Homo sapiens: one gene and its partners. The protein of the gene in region 1 purifies or fractionates together with the protein of each later gene. This does not show direct contact. Each region holds a gene or a part of one and is shown on either strand. Other genes may lie near its edges.

What was found.
Region 2: the proteins of KIF3A (region 1) and ATG9B purify together in Homo sapiens (affinity purification with mass spectrometry; 2 studies listed by BioGRID and IntAct, with this or other methods). This does not show direct contact.
Region 3: the proteins of KIF3A (region 1) and HEPHL1 purify together in Homo sapiens (affinity purification with mass spectrometry; 2 studies listed by BioGRID and IntAct, with this or other methods). This does not show direct contact.
Region 4: the proteins of KIF3A (region 1) and PKP1 purify together in Homo sapiens (affinity purification with mass spectrometry; 2 studies listed by BioGRID and IntAct, with this or other methods). This does not show direct contact.

The regions. Positions count from the first base shown.
Region 1 is NC_000005.10:132,713,541-132,720,566, reverse strand, and holds part of KIF3A (kinesin-like protein KIF3A), read left to right. Parts: intron 1-3,582; coding exon 3,583-3,722; intron 3,723-4,124; coding exon 4,125-4,322; intron 4,323-4,635; coding exon 4,636-4,810; intron 4,811-7,026. UniProt on the Homo sapiens protein: Microtubule-based anterograde translocator for membranous organelles. Plus end-directed microtubule sliding activity in vitro. Plays a role in primary cilia formation. Plays a role in centriole cohesion and subdistal appendage organization and function.
Region 2 is NC_000007.14:151,021,490-151,028,725, reverse strand, and holds the start of ATG9B (autophagy-related protein 9B), read left to right. Parts: upstream 1-4,231; 5' UTR 4,232-4,302; coding exon 4,303-4,852; intron 4,853-4,995; coding exon 4,996-5,039; intron 5,040-5,216; coding exon 5,217-5,281; intron 5,282-5,519; coding exon 5,520-5,681; intron 5,682-7,236. Other genes in the region: ABCB8 (mitochondrial potassium channel ATP-binding subunit), read right to left, coding at 116-210. UniProt on the Homo sapiens protein: Phospholipid scramblase involved in autophagy by mediating autophagosomal membrane expansion. Cycles between the preautophagosomal structure/phagophore assembly site (PAS) and the cytoplasmic vesicle pool and supplies membrane for the growing autophagosome.
Region 3 is NC_000011.10:94,024,330-94,031,355, forward strand, and holds part of HEPHL1 (ferroxidase HEPHL1 precursor), read left to right. Parts: intron 1-7,026. UniProt on the Homo sapiens protein: Is a copper-binding glycoprotein with ferroxidase activity. It oxidizes Fe(2+) to Fe(3+) without releasing radical oxygen species. May be involved in the regulation of intracellular iron content.
Region 4 is NC_000001.11:201,286,505-201,293,530, reverse strand, and holds part of PKP1 (plakophilin-1), read right to left. Parts: intron 1-7,026. UniProt on the Homo sapiens protein: A component of desmosome cell-cell junctions which are required for positive regulation of cellular adhesion.

The DNA of each region.
Region 1 (7,026 bases):
GTAGGCTGGTTTAGAAGCAAATTTGGTATGGCACTTTACCCTGTAGAGACTGGATTTTTTAGGTTTCTTGAAAACCATTCCACTTTGATTATTTACCATGTAGAGAGCATAGATGAATGAAAGATACCACAAATCATTTTCCATGCCGAGCAAAATTTTGTTTCTTTTTAGTAGCGCCAATCTATGCAACTCTCATACGGCTGTCTCTTGGTAGCTATAATAGTAAAATTGGTAATGTTTATTGAGCTCTTAGTGGAGAGTGCTTGTGCTAAGTGCTTCATAAAGATGCTCTCTTAGTCCTCACAGGAGACTATGAAGACATTAAATTCTTACTTTATGAATGAAGAAAGTGAGACTTAGTTTAAGTAACTTGTCTAAGTACTATAACTACTAAGTGGTAGAGTGAGTGATCACACCTAAGCCATAGCCACGCACAGTGGCTCATGCCTGTAATCCCAGCAACTCGGGAGGCTGAACTGGGAGGATCATTTGAGGCCAGGAGTTTGAGACCAGCCTGGACAATAGGGAGCCCCTGTCCTAAAGAAACCCACCTGGAAGAAACCCAAAAAACCTAGGCCAGTAGTCTGCATTAACTAGGCACTGTAATGCTTCCCTTTTGTTGACAAGAAAAGCAAAACAAAATTTAAATTAAAAAATTGTATTCTTTTTAGTAATTGTGTCACATTTTTAGTCTAAAGAGTAGGAAGCTTCAGCGATATTATACAGATGCCTCAAACCTAGTACTGGTGATGCAGCTAATAGCAATTAGAAATTAGAGGTGAAAAGTCTGGTCGCGGTGGCTCACACCTGTAATCCCAGCACTTTGGGAGGCTGAGGTGGGTGGATCACTTGTTTGAGACCAGCCTGGCCAACATGGTGAAACCCCGTCTCTACTAAAAATACAAAAATTAGCTGGGAGTGGTGGTGGGTGCCTGTAATCCCAGTTACTCGGGAGGCTGTGGCAGGAGAATCGTTTTAACCAGGAAGGCAGAAGTTGCAGTGAGCCGAGATCGCGCCACTGCACTCCAACTTGGGCAACACAGCAACCAAAAAAAAAAGAAAAAAAGAGGGATTAGAGGTAAAAGATGAGAAATAGGAAATGAAAAATTTTTATAAGTTTCTGTGACTTGACGATAGATATATCAAACCCAAGGAAATCAAACAACAAAACTTCAAAAATCAATTACATTCTTATGAACCAATTAATAGAAAAAGACCAAATCTTAATAGAAAAATTAGCAAAAAATATGTATGTTATTCGTAGAAGAACTAAGCACAGCAATAAGTATGTGAAAGGCTGTTTAACTTCACAACTAATCAGGAAAATGCTAAAACAAGATAGAGAGAGATGTTTCACCCATCAGATTAGATGAAGGATATGTAGGTTGGTGAGACTTTGAAGAAATGGGCACTGAGGATGGAATATAAATTGGTGCAGCCTATTTGAAGGGCATTGTTAACAGTATCTGTTGACATTTTAAAATACATTCCTTTTGACTCTGTGTTTCTAATTTTAGACATTCTGGAAAATATTTTTAGATGTAACAATCTAAATAACCTTCAATAAAACCCTGATTATGTAAATGATGACACAAAAATACCATAGACTGTAATAAAGCTGTTAAAAACAATGAGTTAGGCTGGGTGTGGTGGCTCATGCCTGTAATCCCAACACTCTGGGAGGCCAAGGTGGGCAGATTTCCTGAACTCAGGAGTTAGAGACCAGCCTGTGCAACATGGCGAAACCCCATCTCAACTAAAAATACAAAAAAATCAGCCAGACGTGGTGGCTTACGCCTATAATCCCAGCTACTTGGGATGCTGAGGCAGCAGAATTGCTTGAACCTGGGAGGCAGAGGTTGCAGTGAGCCAAGATAGCACCACTGAACTCCAGCCTGGGCAATAGAGGAAGACTCTGTCTCAAAAACAAAACAAAACAACAACAAAAAAAACAACAAGCTGAGTGTGGTGGCTCATGCATATAATCCCAGCACTCTGGGTGGCTGAGGCGGATGGATCACTTGAGGCCAGGAGTTTGAGACCAGCCTGGCCAACCTGGTGAAACCTCGTCTCTGCTAAAAATACAAAAATTAGCTGGGCGTGGTGGTGCGCACCTGTGATCTCAGCTACTCAGGAGGTTGAGGCCGGAGGATCACTTGAACCTGGGAGGTGGAGGTTGCAGTGAGCCGAGATTGTGCCACTGCCCTCCAGCCTGGGTGACAGAGGGAGACCCTGTCTCAAACAAAACAACAAAAAAACCCAGTCAGGTAAATGTGCCTACACAGAGCTGGAAGATTTTCAAAGTATGTTTGTCAGTGGGGGGATAAAAGCAAATTGTAGAACAGTATGTATGTACTGCCTTACCCCATTTATTTATATGTGAAAAATTGTTAAACCATATATTTATTTGGGCAGTGTGTGTGTGTTTGTGTCTACACGTATGTATATAAAATACAGAATGAAAGGACAGATTGTAGTGGTTACCTTTAGAGAAGGAGAAATAAAATTGGGGAAAAGGAATGTCAGGAGCTTTCACTTTATGCTTTCTGTATGCTTTTATTAAAAAAACAAATACCAGAAATATGTTAATTATTGGTTATTTAATTAAAAATTTTAACACAAGATTTCATTCATAGAATGAAATTAATTTAATTCTCAGGTAGTTAATTGGAGCTTTTGGTCACTTCATTAAAGATTACCCTTTTAATGTTTCAATTATAAAATCAAAGCTTGCACAGAAAAATGCTGCATGAATGTATAGTAGGAAGATAATTTTGGCATTGAGTAAAATTAACTTTAAAATACTTTGGAATTTAAGAAAAAAACTAATACAGGTCTATTGTAAAAAAATGTTTTTTGTTTACACAATATATTCATATATTTACACATATGCAAATACTTTGCATATTTTGAATGGATTTTTTTTTTTTACAGAAGTAGGATTATGTTATGTATTTCTTTCTAACTTGCTTTTATTTTTAATTTATATGTTATGGACATTTTTCCACGTTTTTAGATCTACCTTATTTTTTTTAATGCTGCACTGAATATTGTTGTATTGTCTAACATATGTGTGCAAGTATTCCTGTGGTTTATATGTTCAAGCTGGAGTGCAGTGGCGCAATCTCAGCTCACTGCAACCTCCACCTCTCGGATTCAAGTGATTCTTGTGCCTCAGCCTCCCAAGTAGCTAAAATTCTCTTTATTATTATTGTTTTTTACTTCCTGCAGTACACCAGCATGCATACTTCTCTTTAGATAGCTAAATCAGCAATAATTTTTCCAATTAATGTGGTTTTTTGGTGTAAATTAGTTATTTTTTAGGCAGTATTACTAGGGATTGAAATTATTTTTTGCTAAAGTTATGTCTTTAATATGAGAAACCTTACAAATTTGTTATCAACAAAGTATAAGAGAAATTTCATGTAGTGGCTAAGTACACACCCATGCCTTTATGGTTTAGCCATGCTCTCTGGCTTTTGATTGTGATAAAATTAAGTGTTTTAAACTGTTCAGGATGTTTAATTATTTTTAAAGGCACTCTCTGTTACACTTTTAAAGGATTTCGTTTATTTATTAAAGGTTCTGTTGGTGCAACTAATATGAACGAACATAGTTCCCGTTCCCATGCCATCTTTACAATTACTATAGAATGCAGTGAAAAAGGCATTGATGGTAACATGCATGTCAGGATGGGGAAGCTCCATCTTGTAGATCTTGCTGTAAGTAACAGGACACTGCTTAAGGAATAACTCTTTCTTGTGATCCATTTATTTTATAAATGAATGAAAATTAAAGTGAAAAGGTATGATTTACATATGATTTTTAAGGTGTTACTTGTGTATGTTTATTATTTATTATGGAACATTTCAAATGTATATGAAAGTAGATAGAATAGTATAGTGATCCCCCATACACTGATCACCCAACTCCCAACAATCAGCTCATGGCTAATCTTGTTTCATGTACTCTCCCCCACTTCTTCCTTTCCTATATTATTTTGAAGTGAATTCAGGCATCATATCAGGTTTTTTACTGTTACATTACTTTTTAATAAAACCTTGGGAAGAATATTCTATTTTTAAAAAAATTTTAGCTTTACTTTCATCTCTGTTTATTGCTAGGGTTCAGAAAGACAGGCAAAAACTGGAGCTACTGGACAGCGCCTAAAGGAAGCTACAAAAATCAATCTTTCACTTTCCACCCTTGGTAATGTAATTTCTGCCTTGGTTGATGGAAAAAGCACTCATGTGCCTTATCGTAACTCTAAACTGACTCGTCTTCTTCAGGATTCCTTAGGAGGAAATTCAAAAACCATGATGGTAAGACTTAATTGGTGATATAGTTAACATCAGGCAAATTTAAGATTGTAATTTATGCCAATAATTGATACGTATCACATTTTTTAAACTTGATTATTTTACTTTTTTTGACTTGTGGTTGTCCTTTTTGTGGTACACTCGTGTATTAGCCCATAATAGTGTCCTTTGGAAACTCATGTGGTTGACACTCTCATTTTCGAGAAGGCCAAGGGTGCATATGTGCTTTAAATGTTTTTGATGTATTTGTAATGGTAGTATTAATTTTAACTCTGTCAAGTGTAAAATGATTTGTTTCATATTTCTAATTCAATAGTGTGCAAATATTGGGCCAGCAGATTACAATTATGATGAAACTATCAGTACATTACGGTATGCCAATCGTGCTAAGAATATTAAAAATAAAGCTAGAATTAATGAAGATCCAAAGGATGCTTTGCTGCGTCAGTTCCAGAAAGAAATAGAAGAACTGAAAAAGAAGCTTGAAGAAGGTAGCTTTTCCTCAAAATATTAATCTTTATGTTGGCTAAAAATACATTGTTGAACCACTAACTGTTCTAACAAAAGCCCTCTATTAAACCTTTTTTGAGCCTCTAACATTGGTAGTTAAATGAATATTTCTAGAAAGTGACTTGGTACTTACATACTTTCGCATTTTCATATTAAGCTTAAGTAAAATTACATAATATTTGTGTATGTGGTTTTTTAAAAACATTTGCATGATGTTTTGTAGATTTCATATGACCACTTTTTAAGGAATGAATGTTTATTTGTCTCTGTATAAGAGCAAATTCTGCAATGTATGTATTTAGGTGAAAATGACCAGAATTCTGGCATTGCAATCAATATCAACTAACTATTGTTTGAAGTAAAGCAAGATATTAGACAGTCATGAGTAAACCAAGTTTGCTATAAGGAAAAATGCATTGCATGACCTTTAAAATATCCTTTCATACCTAAATTTGAACATGAGATTGTATTTTGGAAATTCTTTTCTAACAATATCATGCTAGAAAGTTGGAAAATTTGAAGATCTTATTTATGAGAGTGAGACGCTTCCCAGTCATTAAGTGCTGAGTGAGTCCTTGCACCTTAATGCGAGAAACAGATCCTTTCTGATTGGTACAGAGCTCCTTCGCGAACCACGTAAACAGGGCTTTGGTTTCAAAGCACCTTTGTAGTCTGTGAGAAGACTGACTAGATCAGAGGTGAAATTCAGAGACGCCAGCATCACAAATGTTTAGAGAGGGTACTTATTTAGTAAACAAGTAGTTATTGAGGAAAAGCAGTAAGAGAACTGTTAGATAATGAAATTTGGTGTTTTAAATGTGACCACTAGGTGGTATTTATAGCCAGTATGTTTTAAAGATTTTTAATTTCTTAGCGATGTTAACGGTGAGTGCATACTTTTATTTTGCTGACTTTATGTTTTACATTTTTTTGTTGTGGTAAAATATACATGACATAAAATTTATCATTGTAACCATTGTTAGTTAAGTGTACAGTTAGTGGCATCAAGTATATTCGCATTGTTGTGCAACTGTCACCACTATTCATTTCTAGAAATTTTTCATCATCCCAAACAGAAATGCTGTGCCCATTTAAGTAGTAACTTCCTATTCTTTTCTCCCCCAGTCTCTGGTAACCACTATTCTACTTTCGGTCTCTATGAATTTGACTATTCTAGGTACCTCATATAAGTAAAATCATGGAGTATCTACTTGTGACTGGCTTATTTCACTTAACAGAACGTTGAAGGTTCATCCATATTGTAGCAAGTGCCTGAATTTTATTCCTTTTTAAAAAATTGTGGTTAAACTTGCATAACATAAAGTTTACCATTTTAATCACATTTAAGTCTACATTTCTGTGGCATTACATTCACATTGTTCTGCAGTTATCCGTCTTCAGTTTTCTTCTTGCAAAATTGAAACTTTGTACTCATTAAAAACAGTATGTACCCATTCCTCCCTTCCCCTAGTTCCTGGCCAACAACCATTCTGCTTTGTCTATGAATTTGACTGCTCTGGGTATCTTACGAAAGCGGAATTGGTGGGGCGCAGTGGCTCACGCTTGTAATCCCAGCACTTTGTGAGGCCGAGGCGGGTGGATCAGTTGAGGTCAGGAGTTCGAGACCAGCCTGGCCAACACGGTGAAACCCCATCTTTACTGAAAATACAAAAATTAGCTGGGCATGGTGGCTCTCGCCTGTAATCCCAGCTACTTGGGAGGCTGAGGCAGGAGGATCACTTGAACCTGGAAGGTGGAGGTGGCAATGAGCCGAGATTATGCCACTGCACTCCAGCCTGGGTGGCAGAGTGAGACTCCCATCTCAAAAAAAAAAAAAAAAAAAAAAAAGAAAGTGAAATACAGCATTTGTCTTTTTGTGACTGGCTTATTTCATTTAGTATAATGCCTTCAAGGGTCATCCGTGTTGTAGAATGTATCAGGACTTCTTTTTAATTCTGAATAACATTCCATTGTGTATATACTACATTTTGTTATCCATTCATCCACCAATGGACAGTTGGTTCTTTCCACCTTTTGGCTATTGTGAATAATGCTGCTATGAACGTGGGTATACTAATACCTGTTTGAATTCTTGTTTTACCATTTTTGGGGTATGTACCCAGCAATGGAATTGCTGGATTCTATGATAATACTGTTGTTAATACATTTCAGTTCATTTTTGCTCTTATGACATTTC
Region 2 (7,236 bases), on another chromosome or scaffold:
GGCCTACAGCTCCCAGCAAGCCTCGCGCAAGCTCGTGGACTCCATCTCCCGGCGGGCCGGCACTGCCCTGCCGGGCGGTCAATGGCCCGCTCTGAGTAGGTTTTTCCGTTTTTACCTGACAGCTGAGAATGTCTGGAAGCGGAGGGGCGGTAGCAGCCTGCCTGGGAATGGGCCACCCCGAATCCCGACCCGAAATAAATGCACCAGCATGCTGACGCGGTAAAACAGGAGCCGCCGGCAATAGCAGTTTCACCCTCATCCCACTGAGGGCTCTATGTTGGCTCCCGCCCCCATCCCGACAACCCCCTCGCGCCTTGGCGGTGATTGGTGAAAAGACACATCAATCTCACTTCAAGCTGTGATTGGAGGATATGTTGTCAGCCCCCTCCTTTTGGAACTGTGATTGGAGGGAATCGCCTATCCGCCCGCCCCCTGCTCTGGGCGGAGCCGAGCAGGAAGTGGGCCTGGCTTTTGCCAGGTGCTCCTGTGGGCTCCGGGTGACGTCCAAAGGGTGTGGCCCGACTGGCCCTCCAAGCTATGGAGTATCCATAGTAACGCGTCAGCCGCCGACCTCGGGCCATTTTCCCAAGGCTCCAGGATCTCTAGATGTCCCGTCGTCTCAAGGGCGTGTAGAACGCGGGTTTTGGGGGAGGAATGAACAAAAATCGACTGGGAGTTTTTTCAAAACACGTACATATGCCCTGCCACCCACCCCGCTCTCCTAGGTGCGTCAGAACTGCTGGGACATCTGTCACGTGAAGGGGTGGGTTGCCCCTCCACACCTGTGGGCGTTTCTCATTAGGTGGAAGGAGAGACTTGGAAAAGAAAGAGACAGAGAGACAAAGTATAGAGAAAGAAAAATGGGCCCAGGAGACCGGAGTTCAGTTTACGGAAGATCCACGCCGGCACCAGCCTCTGAGTTCCCTTAGTATTTATTGATCATTATCGGGTATGGCAGGATAATAGGATAATAGTGGAGAGAAGGTCAGAAGGTAAACACGTGAACAAACGTCTCTGCATCGTAAACAAGGTAAAAAAAAAAATGCTGTGCTTTTGATGTGCATACACATAAACATCACAATGCCTTAAGAAGCAGTATTGCTGCCAGCCTGTCCCACCTCCAGCCCTAAGGCGGTTTTCCCCTATCTCAGTAGAGATAGGCTTTACACCGAGACATTTCCATTGCCCAGGGACGAGCAGGAGACAGAAGCCTTTCTTTTATCTCAACTGCAAAGAGGCATTCCTTCCTCTTTTACTAATCCTCCTCAGTACAGACCCTTTATGGGTGTCGGGCTGGGGGACGGTCAGGTCTTTCCCTTCCCACGAGGCCATATTTCATCACATGGGGAGAAACCTTGGACAATACCTAGCTTTCCTAGGCAGAGGTCCCTGCAGCCTTCCTCAGTGTTTTGTGTCTGGGTACTTGAGATTAGGGAGTGGTTTGAGATTAGGGAGTGGTGATGACTCTTAAGAAGCATGCTGCCTTCAAGAATTTGTTTAACAAAGCACACCGTGCACAGCCCTTAATCCATTTAACCCTGAGTTGACACAGCACATGTTTCAGGGAGCACAGGGTTGGGGGTAGGGTTACAGATCAACAGCATCTCAAGGCAGAAGAATTTTTCTTAGTACAGAACAAAATGGAGTCTCCTATGTCTACTTCTTTCTACACAGACACAGGAACAATCTGATCTCTCTTTCTTTTCCCCACAGTCACGTGTACTTGGGGAAGAACTCCCCCGGTGATTCTGACACTCTTGCCCTACGCCTCAGCCATTGAGAACTATTGGTATGGAGGGCCTGTAATTTATCAAGGCGCGGCCTCAGATCTGTCTGCCTCGCAGATACCTTCCTCACCCGGGTCAGAATGACTTGCCTCAGGCTCCTGCCAAAGAGTTTGCACCACTCGTTTCTTCCCTGTAATTACTTGTTTGCGTATTTGTCTCCCCACTGGGCTGCAGCTTCTTGGGTAGTGGCTCTGTTTTATTCATCTGTCCTCTTCCCTTCCAAATGCTTGGCAAGGAAAAGTGCCCTTTAAAATAAATCGACTTGAATTGGGAGTGGTGGTAGGGAGGCTGTCAATGAGAATGAATTCAGGGTGAAACTAGGTAGGACAATGTCCCAGGATTAGTTTGGGGTTGAGCTGGGGAGCTCTTGGTGTATGGGGGGGTCCTATTGTGACTATGGTGGAATAGCCACGATACTGAGTGACATTGGGCGAGTGAGGTGGGGGAGAGACTAGACAACACCCCACATAACCCATCTTGACAGATGTCTCAGAAAGATTATGGGAATTTCCTGGCCCCTCTGCAATGTGGGATTCCATTTTGCTACCTCTAGAAGGACAGGGTCTTGTTTTCATAGCTCTGCCTCCTACTCTGAGATAAAGGCATGCAAGACCTGAGCTACTACTACAATACCCCACACAGAAGGAGAAAATCAGGCACATCTGGATTCAAGTTTTGTGGGTGATTCCATGATTGCCTCCAGTGAACAATCTGGGAAGCACAGTGTCCATATCGCCATTTCAGGGGTACTGGCCCCAACATCAGCCCTTAGGCCTAAGCCCTAGAGACCTTGACACCTGGTGGCTGAGTCAGTATCTCAGTAATGGGCTTTAGAAGGAAACCTGGTGATTCAGGGCCTCAAGAATGGCGTTGGGCAAGCCACCAGACCAGCTGCCTGGGTCTCCTCCTCCTTGTTGAGGTGACAACAAGGAACTCAGTTCAGCTCCTCCCTGGGTATCCAAATTATCCTTCCAAGTCCCAGACTCACAGCTGTCCTCCCTTCTGATTCAGCCCTGATGCTTTTCAGGGGGTCCCAGAAGTGGGATCCGGACTTGAGAGAATGTCACAGTTGAAAATGATAAGGATGCAAACGGAATGGAACTTTCAGAGAACCCCAATTTTCTACTCTAAGTTCTCCAAACCAACTCTCAAATCCAAGATAGCTGCCTTTCCTTTCTTCACCTCCTCTTCTTAGTTTTCCCCAACTTGGCTGCAAAGTCAGCCTCCCCTCTTCTCTTCCTTAGCACCTCAGACCAATAAAACATGCAACCTTTTCTTATTCTTTTTAAAAAATTTATTTTTGACCAGGCGCAGTGGCTCACGCCTGTAATGCCAGCACTTTGGGAGGCCAAGGCGGGTGGATCACGAGGTCAGGAGTTCAAGACCAGCCTGGCCAACATGGTGAAACCCCATCTCTACTAAAAATACAAAAAATTAGCTGGGTGTGGTGGCACACACCTGTAGTCTCAGCTACTCAGGAGGCTGAAGCAGAAGAATCACTTGAACTTGGGAGGCGGAGGTTGCAGTGAGCCGAGATTGTGCCACTATACTCCAGTCTGGGTGACAGAGTGAGACTGCCTCAAAAAGAAAAAAAATTATTTTGTTTGTTTTTTAGATTTTGTAGAGATGGTGTTTCCCTAAGTTGCTCAGGCTGGTCTCGAACTCCTGGCCTCAAGTGATCCTCTCGCCCGGGCCTCCCAAAGTCCTGGGATTACGGGTGTAAGCCAACATGCCTGGCCCCTTTACTTCTTCTTTTCTGTTTTGGTCACAAAACATTTCTCTGTTGATCACTGTAGTGTGTGTGTGGAGGGAAGTGGGGGAGGTACACTCTTAAGAAATGAAATAGTTAACATCTTGGTCCTAAGATTTGTTGTAGAGATGGAGTCTTCTCATTCTGTTCCCCAGGCTGGTCTTGAACTCCTGGCCTCAAGCAATCCTCTTTCCTCGGCTTCCCAAAGTGCTGAGATTGATTACAAGTGTGAGGTACTGCGCCCTGCTACAATCCTTTAATAGGATGTTTTTGGGGGGGGTGGCAGGGGGCAGGATCTAGCTCACTGTAACCTATACTGTTCCAGTGTAACCTGCACCAAGCCATCCTCCCACCTCAGTCTCTTGAGTAGCTAGGAACACAAGCACACATCACCACACCTGGCTCTAACACGATTTTGCTTTTTGCTTTTGTCATTTTGGCTGCTGTTCTTTTTATCTTTCATTCATTCAAGGTCTGAAGATGGAGATAATAGGAATCTTCTCATCTCAATGTGCTCTTTGGCCCCTCCTCTTAAACTGATGCCCCTCTCAGGCCCTGAGGGATTTGGCCTCAGGTTGCCCTGGAAGGGGTGTGAGTGATCAGACAGGTGACTGAGAGCTGGGACGCCTGAGGCCTGCCTAGGCTGAGTCACCTAGTAATGTTGTTGTCATTGTTCCTGTTGAAGTCCCAGCTCAGTGTCACAGACCTTTGTGGAAGCAACAACAGCTCCCATCCTTCCAACCTTTCTGGAGAAGCCGTGGCCTGATGGTGAGCCGAATGGGCTGGGGGGGGAGAAGAAGGCGGCTGGGGCGGTGGGGAGATCTGGGGCCCGGATCGGTGCCCCTCCTCCCCATGCCACTGCCACCTCCTCCTCCTCCTTCATGCCGGGGACCTGGGGGAGGGAGGATCTCCATCTTCTCTCTGTCCCCTGCCCCTCATACAAGAAGCTCCCCCTCCTCATTTTCCCCTCCCACCGCAGGGCCCCCTTGCTCAGTGCTACAGGGGACAGGGGCTTCTCAGTCTTGCCACAGTGCTCTCCCTATCCCAGCCACCCCCCCAACACAGGCTCAACCTGCAATGACACCTGCCTCTGCATCTCCCTCCTGGGGATCCCACTCCACCCCACCCCTGGCCCCGGCAACCCCCACTCCCTCACAGCAGTGCCCCCAGGACTCTCCTGGGCTGCGGGTAGGCCCTTTGATCCCTGAACAGGATTATGAGCGGCTGGAGGACTGTGACCCTGAGGGGTCCCAAGACTCACCCATCCACGGGGAGGAGCAGCAACCCCTGCTTCATGTCCCTGAAGGGCTCCGAGGTATGTGTGTGGGTGTGGGTGGGAGAGGGTTAGTGGTGCCTGGGAGCTCCAGTACTTATCCCAGGCTGGGCCTCTGGCAGCGGGTTGAGAACGTGGAGAATTGATCACATGCCAGGGGCTGACACTCTCCCCTCTGTGCCCAGGCTCCTGGCATCACATCCAGAACCTGGACAGTTTCTTCACCAAGATATCCTTTGCGCTAGGCCTGCAGAGGTGGCATGGGAAGGTCCTCTTGGAGCTGGCACTGTTCTTGGCAGGGAGACTCCGTGAGGGCGTCATGGGTGGGAGACTTGTTGGGGCTGAGGGGAGGTGTCCTCAGGAGAGGCCCCCCGTGCCTCAGGCTTGTTCCTTGACACGCAGCCACATCTACAGCTACCACCAGCGGAATGGCTTTGCCTGCATCTTGCTGGAGGATGTCTTCCAGCTGGGGTGAGACGCTTAGCCCGGGCCCGGAACTCGGTCCCCTGGGCCCATGGCTTCCTTCTGTCATTTTGCTTCCTTAATTGTGCCAGCTGCTTCCATCCCATGCTTTCCCGAGCAGCCCAAGGGCTCAGCAGGGGCAGGGTCAGGGAGGATAACCATGGGCTGCTCTGGGGGCTGGGGCAGGAGCCCACCTGGCTGTCCCTGATCACTGCAGCATCCCGGCACCCCCCCTTCCTCCCGGCAGACAATTTATTTTCATTGTCACCTTCACAACCTTCCTCCTTCGATGCGTGGATTACAATGTTCTCTTTGCCAACCAACCAAGTAACCATACCAGACCTGGGCCGTTCCACAGCAAAGTGACCCTGTCAGATGCCATCCTACCCTCAGCCCAGTGTGCTGAGAGGTTAGTGACAACCTGGTGGGGCCCTGGGGGTGAAGCATGGGCAGTGGGTAGAGGAGTAGACGGGAGCCCCACTTTGTCCCGTCATCTAGATCAGCAGTTCTCAAAGCTTTTGGTCTTAGGACCAAAAATACACTTAATATACTTTAAGTTGTACTTAAGTGTATTAAGTTGTACTTAAAGTGTATTAAGTATATCTTTTTTTTTTTTTAAGACAGAGTTTCACTCTTGTTGCTCAGGCTGGAGTGCAATGGTGAGGTCTTGGCTCACTGCAACCTCCACCTCCCAGGTTCAAGCAATTCTCCTGCCTCAGCCTCCCCAGTAGCTGGGATTATAGGCGTGCACCACCACGTGTATTTTTAGTAGAGACAGGGTTTCACCATGTTGGCCAGGCTGGTCTGGAACTCCTGGCCTCAGGTGATCCACCCACTTTGGCCTCCCAAAGTGCTGGGATTACAGGTGTGAGCCACTGTGCCCGGCCTTTTAAGTGTATCTTAATTACAGTGCATTAAGTGTATCTTAATACACTTAAAATTGGTTGAGAATCCTGAAAAGCTTTTGTTTATGGGAGTCGTATCTATCCACATTTTACCTTATAAAAAATTAAAATTAGGCCGGGCATAGTGGTTCACACCTGTAATCCCAGCACTTTGGGAGGCTGAGGCAGGAGGATTGCTTGAAGCCAGAAGTTTGAGATCAGCCTGAGCAACAAAGTGAGACCACATCTCTATAAAAAATAAAAATTAGCTGGGCTTGGTGGTGCGTACCTGCAGTCCTAGCTAAGCCTAGTCAGGAGGCTAAGACAGTGACTGTCTCTGATCACTGCAGCATCCCTACACCCTCCTCCCTCCCAGCAGACGATTCATTTTCATTGTTGCCTTCACAACCTTCCTCCCTGAAGCATGGATTGCAATGTTCTCTTTGCCAACCAACCAAATAACTGTTCCAGACCTGGGCCGTTATTTGGCAGGGAGATAGGAGCTATGTTTCTACTGCTGCACTACAGCCTGGGTAACAGAGAGAGACCTTGTTTCAATAAAAAGGAAAAAAAAAAAAGAAGGAAATTGTAGCTGAGAACAACTTTAAAATGTAAGAGTGCGGCTGGGCGTGGTGGCTCACACCTGTAATCTCAGCACTTTGGGAGGCCGAGGCGGGCGGATCACAAGGTCAGGAGATCAAAACCATTCTGGCCAACATGGTGAAACCCTGTCTCTACTAAAATATACAAAAATTAGCCAGGTGTGGTGGCGGGCGCCTGTAGTCCCAGCTACCCTGGAGGCTGAGACAGGAGAATCATTTGAACCCGGGAGGTGGAGGTTGCAGTGAGCCAAGATTGCGCCACTGCACTCCAGCCTGGGCGACACAGCAAGACTCCATCTCAAAAAAAAAAAAAAAGAGTGTACAAGCACACATTTCATCAGCTGTCAGTGTGATGTGACATGTTCACGTGTCTTGTAGCCTCTGGAAAACTCCACTGTACTCTCAGAGTACAAGAATGAAAACATCAGAAAGCATTAGTATTATTTGGAAAAAGTTTGACTTTGCACATTTGTGAAGG
Region 3 (7,026 bases), on another chromosome or scaffold:
AAGGGAGTTGAAATGTAATCCCTAGAGTCACTTGAGAAGTGTAATGCCAAAGCATTAGAAATAATTTTGAAACTGAATGAAAAATATCTTTCCTGACTTGCCAGTTCTAGAAAGATTTTTGCAATGGTGAAAGAAAGGAGAGAGATGATTTGCAAATGTTCAGTCCTAGAAATTAGAGTTGGAGAAGACCTGGGACTGATCGTGGGCATATGTGACAACTTTTGAAGTAGTCTTTATTTTTCTTTCTCCATTTTTTCCCCTGTCCTTTAAGAATTATCTCCAATTCCTCACTTCATACATGAAGCTTTCCCCCATGACCCTGGCTTGTACTGATCTGTTTCCTTCCTAACCACTCATGGAGCTTGGGGTCTTTATCATGAACTTGGACACTGCATTTTCTTCCCTCTGCATTGCCCTCTAATTGCTTGATGTACATTAGTCATGTCTGCAACTGCAGTAAAACACCCTGATGATAGATAAGAAGTTTTGGCGTATATTCAATAATCCCCCTTCCCTGCACGGAACTTTGTCATTGACAATATCCTATGGAGGATCCAGTACAGGGCAGGCATTCAAAATCATTGAAGTAAAAGCTAATCACCTTATCAACTGAGTTGTTCTGGTTGTTTTATCTTTGAATAAGGGGAATGGGCAAAAATCTGGGGAACAAGATGGTGGGTGCCAAAGTTTCAGTAATGTGAAAACATTTGGAAACCAAAGTTAGGCACATCCTTATGCACAAGGACGAGATCGAAAATGAATTGAAATCATTTTGCTGAGACTCTATAGCCCTCAGATGGTGCAAATTAACTTTTATGCTTGGTACCTATGCTTGATTATAGGGTTCAAAAATATAATTGAGTCTATAATCACTAATGTTTCCTAGAAAGTATAGGATTTAGGAGTTAGATTCTATTTAGAAATACTTTCTCCAGATAAATATACTTCTCCTCCTCCTTGGAGTAAATGGGGACACTGGGCTCCTTTGAGTTGCCTGGGGATGGTGTCAGTATTTTGATCTATTTATACCAGTCCTGCTCAGGCTCATAAAGTCCTTAATTAAGGTGTGTGTTTGGTGGTAAAGCCTGATCCTTAATGGAAGTAGGGTGGGGTCATCTTATTTAAAGCCACAGTTCTCACCATAGACCTCATTAGGCCATCAACACACATTCAGCCTTTTTCTTCCCAGTGAAATGCAGGGTTTTCATGGACGCTAACTCATGGGTGGAACTGCGCTTGAACATAAGTGAGGCTAGCCACTGCTCAAACCCCATTTTTGTAGAGTCTGTTAGTTGACCCAGCCACATCACTGCATCAGCCCAGTGTATGGCAAGGGGCTTTGAGTATTCTAAGAAGCAGGCCCTAGGATAGGTGTGAGAGAGAACTCACACATCTATCTGAAAGAAGGACCAACTGAGGGGAAGCAGGGAGGAGACAGAGGTTTTTGTGAGCTTTGAAATAAAGAAAAGAATATCATCTGGTAAGTGCATGGTCTAAACAAATGGTAACTTTCAAATCTCAACTTCTGTCTTATCAGCACCAAAAATATTTTGTTTGGACTGATGCCATATGAATCTCTGGGAACTGCTGTTCTACCCTATATCAGTAAGTGATTGTTTCTGGCTGCCACTAGAGACTGGAGTATAATGTCTTTAACAAATTAGGATTTTGTATTCATTTGTAGAAGAATCCAGAAGTGGGCAGTCCAAGGCTGGTGGGATAGATGGTATAACAAGATATCAGGGGCTTTCTGTATTTCTGATCCACCATCCTTAGCCTATGTGCTTTAAACCCTTTGTGGTTTCCCTCCTCAAGCACATTCATGGTCACAAGATTGCTGTTGGATCTCCAGCCATCGTGTCTACATTCCAGGAAGAAAGAGAGAAAGGCAAAAGGTAGAAGCAGAACAATTTTTGCTGCATCAGCCTTTCAAAGGGTTCTCATTGAAACCCTACCCAACCAATTTTACTTAAATCTCATTGGATACTCATAGCCACAAAGAGGACTTGAAAAAATATAACGTTTCAGCTGTGTACTTTTCTGCCTGAATAAAGATAGAATTTACCTCTGACACTAAGAAAGAAGGGGAGCATGAATATTGCAAGGCAGCTGGCAGTCCCTGCTCCCCTCCCCTACCTCAGTTCTCTCCTGTTTTCCATGATTCACAGGCATCCTCTTAGTCCCCATCTTGCTTTTCCCACCTCCATATGATGGACCCCCAAGGCCTGGTTAGCAGGATCTGAAAGATAACTCATTGACAGTATAATAAGTTAGCTAAGTGTCACTGAGTATTTACTATGCTCCAGGCATTGCTTTAAAAGGTTAGCACACCATGAAGTGGGGTGACCAATCTTCTGTCTCTGGGAGGGAGATCAGGTGGCATCGGGAGGATTTCTCCAGCCAAGTGTAGCCCAGCCTTGGTCTTAGGGAGATGCCAAGGCAGTCCAGTTTGCTGGTAAAGTATGGGGCTCTGGCATCAACTGTCACATTTAGAATTCTTGCCCCACTTTATGGGCAAGTAATTCAATCTCTCTTTGCCTCAGTTTTCTCATCAGTAAAATAGGGATAGTGACAGTACTTGCTTTGAGGGTGTATCAGTTTTCTGTGGCTGCTGTAACAAGTTACAAACTAGGTGGCTTCAAACAACAGCAATTTATTCTCCCCCAGTTTTGGAGGCCAGATGTCTGAACTGCATGTGTTGTCAGGGCCACAATGCCTCTGGAGGTTCTAAGGGAGGGGCCATTCCTTGACTCTTCCAGGTTCTGGTATCTGCCAGCATTCCTTGGCTGTGGCTGCATCACTCTGATCTCTGCCTCCATTTTCATATCGTCGTCTTCTCTCTGTGTGTCTAGCCTATCTTTGCCTCTTACTTATAAGGATGCTTTTGATGGTGTTTAGGGCCCACCCAGCTAATCCAGGATGATCTCCCCATCTCAAGATCCTTAACTTAATCACATCTGCAAAGACCCATTTTTCCAATAAGTTTCTGTGGATGAGGACTGCGGAGTTATCTTTGGGACTTAGGATCTGCACATACTCAGACACAGTGCCTGCCACTTGAGAGCACTTGATCAGCTCTCGTGGTAGCTCTGCCGTCTCACGGGGTTCTTTGGAGAGCAGGAGCCCTGGGGGAAAGACCTTGGCTGGTCACATTTTCCTCTTTTCTAACAAAGCTTTACGCTTTACCAGAAATAATCATAACTGTCATTGATTCAGCACCACTCTCCCAGTTGCTGTGTGTGTGGCTCTACACCTCTTCTCATTGAATCCTTATGATAGCTCTACCATGGTCACTGCTTTACAGCAGAGGAAACTGGTTCAGAGAGGTTAAGTCTCTTCCCCATTTCACAACCAGCAAGTGAGAGAGTTGGGATTCAAGCTCATTTTCATTCCCCCTCATCATGCCATTTGTTTTGAACACACCTTGTATATGAAGGGCTTCTGTGGAAATGAAGAGTGAAAAGGAAGGACCCAAGACATAGGTGGTGCCAGGGACCCAGAGTGAAAGAATGTATATAGAAGCACATCCAGATGGTATTAAAAATTATTAATCTAATAGGGAGGGTGCAGCTTCACCAAACTGAATGTGCAATCTCCGTCTCCACCCTTCCTTTTTCCAAGTGACATTTGTCTCAATCTCATCTTTTTTTCTCCTTGGTGAAGAACGTTCCTTCTCAAGCTCAAACAATATTTCTTGTCCTTATTGTGACTCTTATGATCTCACATGTTGGATCTGACCACACTCTCTGCTAACATTATTTTGCAGTTTATCTTCATCTTATATTTCCCTGCCCTCTACACAGACATGTGGGCTCTGGACAGTAGAGTTGGCAGTTAACATTGTAAAACTGTGTTTACTGTCAAATGCATGTTTTGCTTCCCAACTAGATGGTAAAACTCTTGCATGCAGGGACTGAGATTAATACATCTTGGCCCCAGTTTCTAGTTTTATGTCCCAGACATAGTAGATGATCAGCAATTGCTCCAAGGAAGCTATCAGAAAACATCCCTCTAAAAGATGCAGAGGTCATGGGATTGCTGGGTGGTTTATATCCCTGCAAGCTACGAACTCCTGAGAATCTAACCTGGAAGTCCAACTCTGTACTGTGTAGGGGATTCCCAAGGGCAGGTTTGTTCTGATAATGATTAATCTCCTCTGCTTTTGGAAGATATCTCCATCCACAGGATTGGCCCCAGGCACTGGCAATGTAATGTTCCAAGTCCCCATCTTGTCTTTAAGGCAGTTGTTAATGTTAACCTTCCTGGCCCCACTGGATTCTTTTGCAGCAGGAAGTAGACACCTCCTTAGCTTGAGTCAAGATGTTAGAATGCAGATTGAAAATGTTCTTGAGGAATAGTGATTGCTCAGCCCCTCGCCATGGCTACGTGATAAACAACAGATGGCTCACCAATGCAACATTCTAACAAATATACTCCATTTAAATTGGAGGTTGCTTCATGGGGATGGCTCCCTTGAAGTTACTTCCTTACTTTGTTTCTTGGGCAAATTTGCATTTTATAGAACTCAAAGGAGCTGGAGTTTCTGTTCTACTATTACAAATGCATAATATGTTCTCAATGGGTGGTTTGCTGTGTAGACACTAAAACAAACTACTTTCTCTTATTTCTATCCCTTCCCACTTCTTTTTTTACTTTCAAGCTTTTTTTCCTATTAGTTAAAAAAGTATAGGATCTCACTGTATTGCCCAGGCTAGTCTTAAACTCCTAGCCTCAAGTGATCCTCCCACCTTGGCCTCCCAAAATGCTGGGATTAGGCATGAGCCACCACACCCAGCCTCAACAAATTTTTATCAAATAGTTACTATAGTTTTTGTTTTGTGTGAAGTATCTTCCTAGGGCACCTTCATGGGTCAACCCTGTCCTACTCTTGATGTGGAGTCAGTGCAGGGGAAGAAGTCCTGGGACAAGGAGGAAGCTATGGGTTCTCTTCACTGTCTGAGCAGGAGGCTCCTCCTGCAGCAGAGGAAGAGAGGGTCTTGCAATAATAATTAAATGCCCCCACCCAGAAGTGACACGTGGCATTTCCACTCACAGCCAATTTGCCAGAACACTATGGCCCATCTAACTTGCAAAAGCAGAATCACTGTGGTCTTCTTTGGTTAGGAGGAAAGAAAAATTAGAATACGCAAGCCCTAAAAAGCTCTACTACAGGAATCATTTGGTGATCTTAGGAAAAAATACAGATACCATGGTCTTGCCAGTAGAAAGTCTGATTCCATTGCCCTGAAGTGGGGCCTGAGAATAAAAATTTGGCAAATGTTCCAAATGATTCTGATGCAAGTGGTACATGGGTGGACATTTGGGAACCACTGCTTTAGAAAACCCAATCCCCCCTTGGGGTGACTATTGGCTGTATAGGTGATAAGACTGATATGTGTCCAGGAATATGAAAAACAGTCAATGTATAACTCAGTGCCAAAATATGAAGCATACCATAAGTGCTCCAGTCCCTACAGGGACTCAGCAAACACTTCACTGCCCCTCCTGATACTTATTTTGCCTCTTATTTAGTGCCTTTGCCAGACAACTCATGGTAAGACCTGGTCTTGTGGAGGTGATGGAGAAAGGTCTTGGGCAGAGGTGGGGTCAGGACCTCTTAGCAGATTAAAAGCAGGAGTACATATGTGAAGATGTGAGCATGTGTGCTCCACATGCATCTGCATGTGTGTATACTTTTGTGTCTTCATGTGTGCAGTGGGAGAACAGGGTAGAGAAGTAGAGTCCAATGTCCATCCTTCCCTATAGGGCCTGTTGGAATGATAAGGTCCTATGAATAATAGTTTTGTATTATAGTTTTTACCCATCAGGCTGAACCCAGAGAGCATACCAGGGATTCTGAATCTAATCCTTGCTGTGCCACCTTACTGGGTGACCCATTGTCAGCTATAAAACTGGGCAACTCTGAGGCTTATTAGCAAGCTTGGGGATGACTCAGTTCTTCCTCTGCCTCTTCCTCTTCCTTCTCCTTTTGCACAGCCTGTTCAATCAGGAGTTGTATTCAGCTACTCTTTAACAGAATCCTGAAAAACAGAAGTGGTTTAAATCGATTAAAGATTTATTATTATTGCTTACATAAAAGAGAGCCAGAGGTTGGCAATCATCTGGGTCCCAGGTTCCTTTTGGCTCTCACTTGACCATTCCTAGGGTGTGACCCTCTTCCTCGTTATCTCAAGATGGCTGCTGGAGCTCCAGTCATCATGTCTACATTTCAGGCATGAATAAAGGGAAGAGAAGAGGAGAAAAATGGTGTCTTCCAGCTACACCTGGAGAAGTATCATTGAGTGACTTCTGCTTACATCTGATTGGCTAGAATTATGTCACATGACTATTCCAAGTTGCAAGCAAGTCTGAGAAATGTAACAGCCTCTATTATAAAGGTCCAGGGGTCAGGCATCCCAACTTTTATATCCCATTCTCTTGCACAGGGAAATGTAAGTCTTTGCCTTATAGAGTGGGAGAGGGCTAACTCTTGCTCCTGGGTAGACACATGCAGGCTTAGTGGATGCTTGGATACAAGAGACCCAGAATGTTCATACACAGTCCCAAGACTTCAGCCTCAATGCCTGAGAGGAGAGTTGGCAAGCCAGAGGTTGAGCAGGGATAGTGAGCAGATGCCATGCTCTCTGCTCCAGAGGCCAATCCCCTTGCAGAGCAGAACTCAATCCAACAACACCCTTTGTTGTGGCAGCTTTGTTTTTAGAAATAGAAGGCATGCAAGAGAATTTTGGCCCCTTGGAGGCCAAACAGCATGGGTCTTCTTTTTTTTTCAATAAAACGTGAGCTTGTTTTTAGTATTGAATTTGTAGGTACAGAGTAACCGCCCCTCCCCCTACAACAGTATAAAAGAGGATGAGTGAAAGTAAACTTCTCCTCCGTCCTCCCTCCCACCTGTGGCTTCAGTCTCATAGTCTGGAGGCTACACTTTGTTTCCCTGGTCACTTTCCAGATGTATTCTTTGCATATGGGTAAATGTGCATTGTTACACACACACACACACACACACAC
Region 4 (7,026 bases), on another chromosome or scaffold:
CCAGTCCAGCAGCAACAGCTGATTAGAGATTGATTCAGGACAGGACTCTGGATTCAAATCTCAGCCCAGCCCCTACCAGTGACCAAACTTCCTCCCATTCTTTCACCTCTAACATGCTCTGGCTGGTGAAGGGGGAGCGGCGATCAACCTCAAAGGCCCAGTGAGGATTAATTAATGTTTTCGGAGTGCTTGGAGACCCACAAATGACAGGCTCCGCAGGAGGACAGAGTGTCATTAGGGTTATTAGTGGCAAAGTGGCTTTGCATCACAGAAAACAGAACTGGATTTGGGGCTCCTAGTGGGGCCACCCCCCTCATCTCCCTTTCACTGGCCAGCAGGGACACCCTAAGGGATAGCATCAACTCTGCACAAGCTGGTCTGTTCACTGTCCTGCTGTCCTTGAAATATGGCCAATGGTGACAGGCTCACCACTTTACTCACATCTCCCTCCATGCCAAACCTGCCTTCCCTCCTTGGCCACTACCTTCTAATCTTGCTCATCTTTTGAAGCCAAGCTCAAGACCTCACCCACTCCAGGAAGCCCTTTCTGATCAGTTCTGCACAAGGCAATCTCTCCTGCCTCTAAACACATACTGTCCTGCTCTTGGTAGCCCAAGTCTCATTCTGCCCTGCGTCCCATTCCCTCAGCTATACTGGGAGCTCCACGAAGAGCAAGCCATGGCTCCGTGGCCTGGCCCACACTCTTGTTAAGTGATGGCCTTGGGGGATGAAGGTGAGTGGGATCCAGTGAGAGCCTCCTAAGAGGGATATGCACTCCTTTTCTCTAAAGCGATGGTCAGACTCCCCCATCGGAAACCCTGTCTGTGGGGAAGAGAGTTGGGCAGTGATCTCACCCAGCCAAGGTAGCTCCTCCCCATCTGCCACACCCACTTAGGCTCCCCGGCCATTGCCTGGGGGAGCAGGGCTGGAATATCTGAGCTGGGAGTAGAGGGAATAGCCAAGGGGCAGCTTTGGAATGAGGCAGGGATCCCCACCTCGTGCCACCTCCCCTGTCCAGCGCCAGGTCACCACCCATAGCCCACAGCAGAGAGTGCTGCCCAACTCTCTGCACCCTTCCATCATGGACATTAGGGGTCTCAAGCTGTGGCAGACACAGCTTGCCCTGGGGGCCTAGCGGTGTTGATATTTGTCCTGGTTCTGGCACCTGGGCAAGTCACTTGCTCTCTCTGAGCCTCAGTGTCCTCTTCTGTCAAAAGAGAGGGTTGGCCTCTTACCTCCCATAGGCCCCGTACAGTTCCACTGCCCTGTGGTGGTGTGATGATAGTGACACGTGCCTGACTGCGTTCAGAGGAGCCGACTCCTCCTCTCCAGAGACACAGCTCAGCTTACAAGGAAGAAGGGCAGACATCAAAGGCCACACTACCGCCTCGTTTGCCACCTGCCTCAGGGTCCTCTGAGAGGCCTCCCCTATACTCCAGGCCTAGCCCTGACTCCAGAAGGGCCATCCGCCTATGAGCAACATCCTGGGACTCTGCCATGTGGCCCATTGAACCTCTGGCTTCCTCCAAGCTCCCTGTAGAGTGCACACAGCTCTTCCTCCACCTTTCTCCAGCAACCGCTCCTCTGGCAAGACTGTCCTTATCAGGAAGAGGCTGGAGGCAATCTCATGGGCTCAGTCACTCAGGACTGGTGCTCCCAAGGAAGGGGGCTGCAGCCAGGCACACTCATAGTCAGGACCCTAGGTGGCCAACCACCAGGTCTTGTCTGCCTCCCTTCCACCCAGCCCACTTTGATCATTCTTCCAAGGTTTGATAGGATAGAGTTCATTTGGATCTGGCCCTGTGAGCAGGTATTTCTCACCAAAGGTCAGGTGTGGGTCAGTCAGCTGCTTCTGGGTGGAAAATTTGGGGTGGTGACAGACAGAACTTTATGGAGCACCGGGGAGGCCTCCTGCTATGAGAAGCAGCCCCGGGGGGCTTGCACCAGGGCCTTCTTGCCCGTCTTCTGGGAGAGAACCTGTCAGCATGATGCTGCTCTCCCCATGGGTCATCAGACTAACCATCTCCTCCCGCCACACCCTGCACCTGCCTGCCTCCCTCTCATACACTCTTCTCTGTATGAAGGTAGAGGCCTCTCTGCCATGGAGGTGGCAGTGGACACACAGACACATGGAGGGAGAGGCCAGAATGCCCTGCAGTTCCCAAAGCCAGTCCCCATGTCCAGCATGAACTCTGGTAAAGGCAGGTGTGACTGTCACTCACTTGTGGCCTGCAGGCCCTTCCAGGCAGTTCCTGAAGGCATCTCCTAAGACCTATCTGTAGTTGGGGTCTGCTTGGCTCTGGTGAGAATGAGGGTAACATCACACCTGCCTGCACTGCTAATCTGGCAGAAGGTGACAGTATTTGGGGCGGAGGTGGTGAGAGAGGGGAAAAGTCCATAGTTGTCACACACCTGAAATCACAGCTCGCAGTGTGCCAGATAACCAAGGAGTACTGGGGGCAGGTGTGCTCTGTCTGTAAGAGCACTGCTCCCACAACAAAAGTGATTTTCCCTCTCTTGACCCTGGGGTGTCTGACTGGTAAGTAATGCCCTCTAAAAGTCAAGTTCAATAGCAAGAGCATGGGCTTCTAATGAGTGTAATGGTGCTAGCTCACTCTTCCACTTGGTCCCCGATGTCTCTAGAATGCACTTCTAGGAAGCCTTTCCTGATGAATGACGCCTACTCCCATCTCCATCTCACGCCCGTACAAGTCTCCACCACCATGTACTTTGGACACTCTCTGAAGTGCGAACCATGTCTTTCTTTCCCTGGGACCTTGAGTTCAGGGCATTGCCCCAGCTGGGTCTGGGCCTGACTGGCTTGAGCTGGCTCTTTGCGTCAATGACCTCTTCTCCCTTGCCCAACCCTTGTGGTGAACGTGCTCTGATGCCTGGTGCTTAGAGGCTTAGAATGGGGTCAGGCTCTCCTCCCACTCAAAGAGGTCCCTGGTGAGTGGGGTAAACCAGGAAGAGAGGAGGGCTGCTGCAGCTCTCAAATACCCAAGGCCACCTCCTTGAGGAGGATTCTTAGTTCCTGGGGAATGGGGGAGGGGCTAGTTCCCAGCTCACCCCACAGAATCACTCCTACCCTCCAGCTAAGCATCTGCTTTGCCCCTCTTCTCCCCATATGGGTGCATGCAGCATGAGCAGGGATGTGGTGGCTTCTCGGTGACACTGACAGTGTGCCCAACCTGTGTGCCATCCTCAGGAAGCATCTGCCCACCCACAGAACCCCAAGGTCAAGGAGCAAGTGCCTCAGAGCATCTGCCACTTTCCCAGGTATACAAGCAACACAACCTGCTCTGTCCACATAGCTCGTCTGATTTTACATCCGCGTTTTAGGGTGTAAAACCATCTCAGAAAATCTACCGCTCAGGTCACCAGTGTCCTGGCACACTGCTTCCCTTTGGTGCCTTAGACAACGACAGGCTGATTCTTTCTTGTGTCATCGGTGCAACTCAAGCTTTCTCGCCTCAAAACCTTTGAAACTGGAGGCAGCTCCTTCTTTAGGATGAGTGGAAATCTCTCTCCAGTAGGGGCAGGTGAGCCTTTGCAGGGATGACTCATCCTCTTCCACCTCCAAGCTTTCAAATAGGTCACACTTACTGCACCTGAAACATTCTTTCTCTTCTTCTCCAACCCTCCCCCTGCATTCAAAACCTTGCACAAAAATCAGCTTCTCCTAAAGATGACCGCACCCAGCTCTGAGCACTCCAAACTTGCCAGCATAACCATGTCAGCACTCAATCCAGCGGCTGACTCTGCACTGGCTTGTGGGCTCCTTGGAATGTGGCTTCTGTACACTGTGTGTGTGTGTGTGTGTGTGTGTGTGTGTGTGTGTGCACTCCTCCCAGAAGGTAGGGCCTGGGTCTCCCCAACCAAGCTGGGAGCTCCCTGAAGCAAGGAATCTTCACCTTTGGTAGATCCACACTCCACACCCCCAATCCCAGGCCCAGGTTCTACATAGAGAAGGCTCTCAGGACATCAGCCTTCCTGCAGACAGAGGTCATAGGGAAATCCGCTTTTTCCACTTTCCCTCCCCTCAAATCCTTCTCCTTCGTCACAGGGCAAGCTGCTCGGAACACATTCTTGCTTACTCTGTCTCCCTTAAGGCCGATGCTTCTTCTAGCATATTCTACTTTTGAATAAAGCCCACCTGTCCTTCAGCATGAAAAGCTTGAGAAAGGAAGCTCATTTTCTTTTAGTCTTGAAAATGCCTTTACTTCACCCTCTGAAATCTCTTTCACCCATGGTGCCCAGAAAAGCTAGGCCCACAGCAATAGGAATTTAAATGAGATAACAAGAACTGCCAGGAAGCTACTGCTGAGAGAATACCCTCAGAGGTGTTTCGGAGTGGGCAGGAGTGGACTGTGTCTGCGGGATGGTTCCAGCTCCTGGAGGGAGGACTGGGCTGGCCAGCCTCCTGCCCCCTCTGCTGGGCTGCTGGGAGCACCGTGGACATGCCTCCCCAACTCGGCAGCTTCTAGGAGATGGGGAGGGCAAGGAGTTCAGCACAGCCTCACCGGGCACTTTGGTGTGGCTCTTGACCTTTTCCTGGGTGTACGTACTGAACAGAAATGCTGAAACAAACTGGGTTGCTGTGGCCTGTGTTCTCTCTTCTCCCTCTCCAGCCCATGTGACTCCCTCAGGCTCTGCTGGGACGCGTTCAGACCTAGCTCTGCCACAATCCTGCTGCTCTTTCAGCAGATCTGTTCATGGCCACCACCAAGCCTGAGGACTGGGCAGAGCATGGGAGCATCCTGTGGGGACAGGATGGGCGTGAGGGGGCAGGGTGGTGGGTTAGAGTGGGCAAGGGTTGACGGGTTCAGGTGGGGTTCAGAGTCAAAGGCTCTCGCCAGCAACTACTACATTAAGTGTGCGTGTGTGTGTGTGTATGAGAGAAAGACATGGGTGTATGTCATTGTATAGGGGTGCTCCCCCATGCTGGATCTGTGTGAGTGAAGGACAGGGACTAGAACAGTGGTTCTCCAACTTGGCTACACATGAGAATCACCTGGGAGTTTCTGAAGTCCTGATGCCCGTGCCATCTTTCATACTCACTAAGTCAGAATCTCTGGGGGTGGGACTCACGCATTTGTGTTGTTTGAAATTTCCAGGTGATTCCAATATGTAGCCAAGTTTGAGAAGAGTGGATGAGAAGACTTTTTAATATGTTAGGATGTTTACGAGAGAGACACGATGAGTGGCATGCCTTAAGGGGAAGAGCTTTTTGGCAGAACAGCTGCTGGCGGTCTGGGCAAATGGTTTGCAGAGCTAGAGAGTTATAAAATCTATTTCCAAAGAGTGTTCCCATTGCAAAGCACTTTGGAGATGATCTAATCCAACCTCTGACAGCTGCAGAGACCCAAAGAGAGGCAGCGACTTGTCCAAGATCGCACACCAGGTAGATGCCAGGCTGGGCTCCTGACACAGCACAGCTGCAAGGACACACATGTACACACACATAACATAAGTGTGTGCATGTTATGTGTGTGTACGTGTGTGCATGTGTGGGTGTGTGGATTCATGTGTGGGGTGTATTGTGTATACATGCATATATGCATGTGTGACCTATGTGTGTATACATGTGTGCGCATGTGTCCAGCGTATGCCTAGAAGGAACTTCACATGAAGATATCTAACATTCGTCCATTTTATTTTGTTCAAACATTACACATCTTGTAAGGGTCACGGCCCATCGCAGAAGCGCTTCCCAGATTTCTAAACCTAGAACAATTGGCACAATGATACTTACAATGGTATGGGGTCGGGGGAGGAATTTGTACTTTTAAAAAATCTCTGTCAAGGAGCAGGATCCAGAGAAGCAGCATTTGCTGCAAAACACCCTAGAATACCCAGCATTTTTGCATGTGTTGTAACAGGCCAACGGAAATTCTGGCTAAAACTCCAACTTCAAGCCAAGGTACATTGTAAAGAAACAAGAATTGGTTCATTTGAAGTTTAATTGGTATGTTTCGCCAATGGAACAAGCTAAAGCACACATAGCCATTACCATCTGCAATCTCAGCTTCGGTCCCAAGAAAACAACCCCAGAAGTGATGCCTGTGGTCAGGAAAGGACAACTTTCTAGAAACTCTAATGAGCAGAACACTCGGGCAGAAGCTCATGCTGAGACATAGTCAAACACAAATACAAAAAGCCATCAAAGTGGGGGCTCCTGAGGCGAGCTCCTTCACTGTGCAGGCTGCGGAGTTCGTACAAGCATGCCCCCCTCTCCCCTGATGAGGGCTGAATAGACACAGGAACTACAGAAAGGGAGCAGGCACCTCCCCTGGCTCAATGTTGCCTCCAGCCCCTACCTCTGATCAGAGAGAAATAGAGGCTTAGCAATTTTAGATGGGAAACAGTACTTCTATGAAGAAGGGAGAAAGAGAATTTCAGGCCAAAGGCTGAAATAAAAAATCACAGATGGCTAAGCAGGCAGTGAGACAAAGCAGGCAATGGTGCTGGTGTTGTTAGGACTTCCCTGGAAGGAGACAGGACAGGTGAAAGGAAGCTCCTTTCACTGAGCTGGGTGTGATCTGTATTCACAGTGGCGGGGGAGCGCTTGGGTTAGGGCAAGTGAGATTCAGGTTCAGCTTTAGGAAGAGATTCCAAGTGAAGTTATAAAGATCTGGAAGGTGGATAAGTGTTTCCTTCCCCATCCTCAGGGAGGTCATTTCCCTGGCAAAGATCTTTTGCTGGGTGGTGACATCCCCCTCAGTTTCCCCTTGCCTTCCACACAGTCTGGGAAGAAAAGGAGGCCAGACACCCTGAGGCACACAGGGACAGCCTGAAAACACAGGGGAGCAATACTTCAGGGGCAGTTCAAGATGGGTAGGCAGGTTCAGAGCAACCTCCTTCTGCAAGGTCTCCAGGCCACAGAAGCCACCTTCTTCCTGCCCGGGGCCTTCATGACCAGGGCAAGGTGCTTGTCTGATCTGTGGCATTTCAGGGAGAGCATGAGTGCAGACAGGCATTTTGTGACAGGCTCCAGGGGCCCTTCCTCCAGTCCTCAGTGGCTCA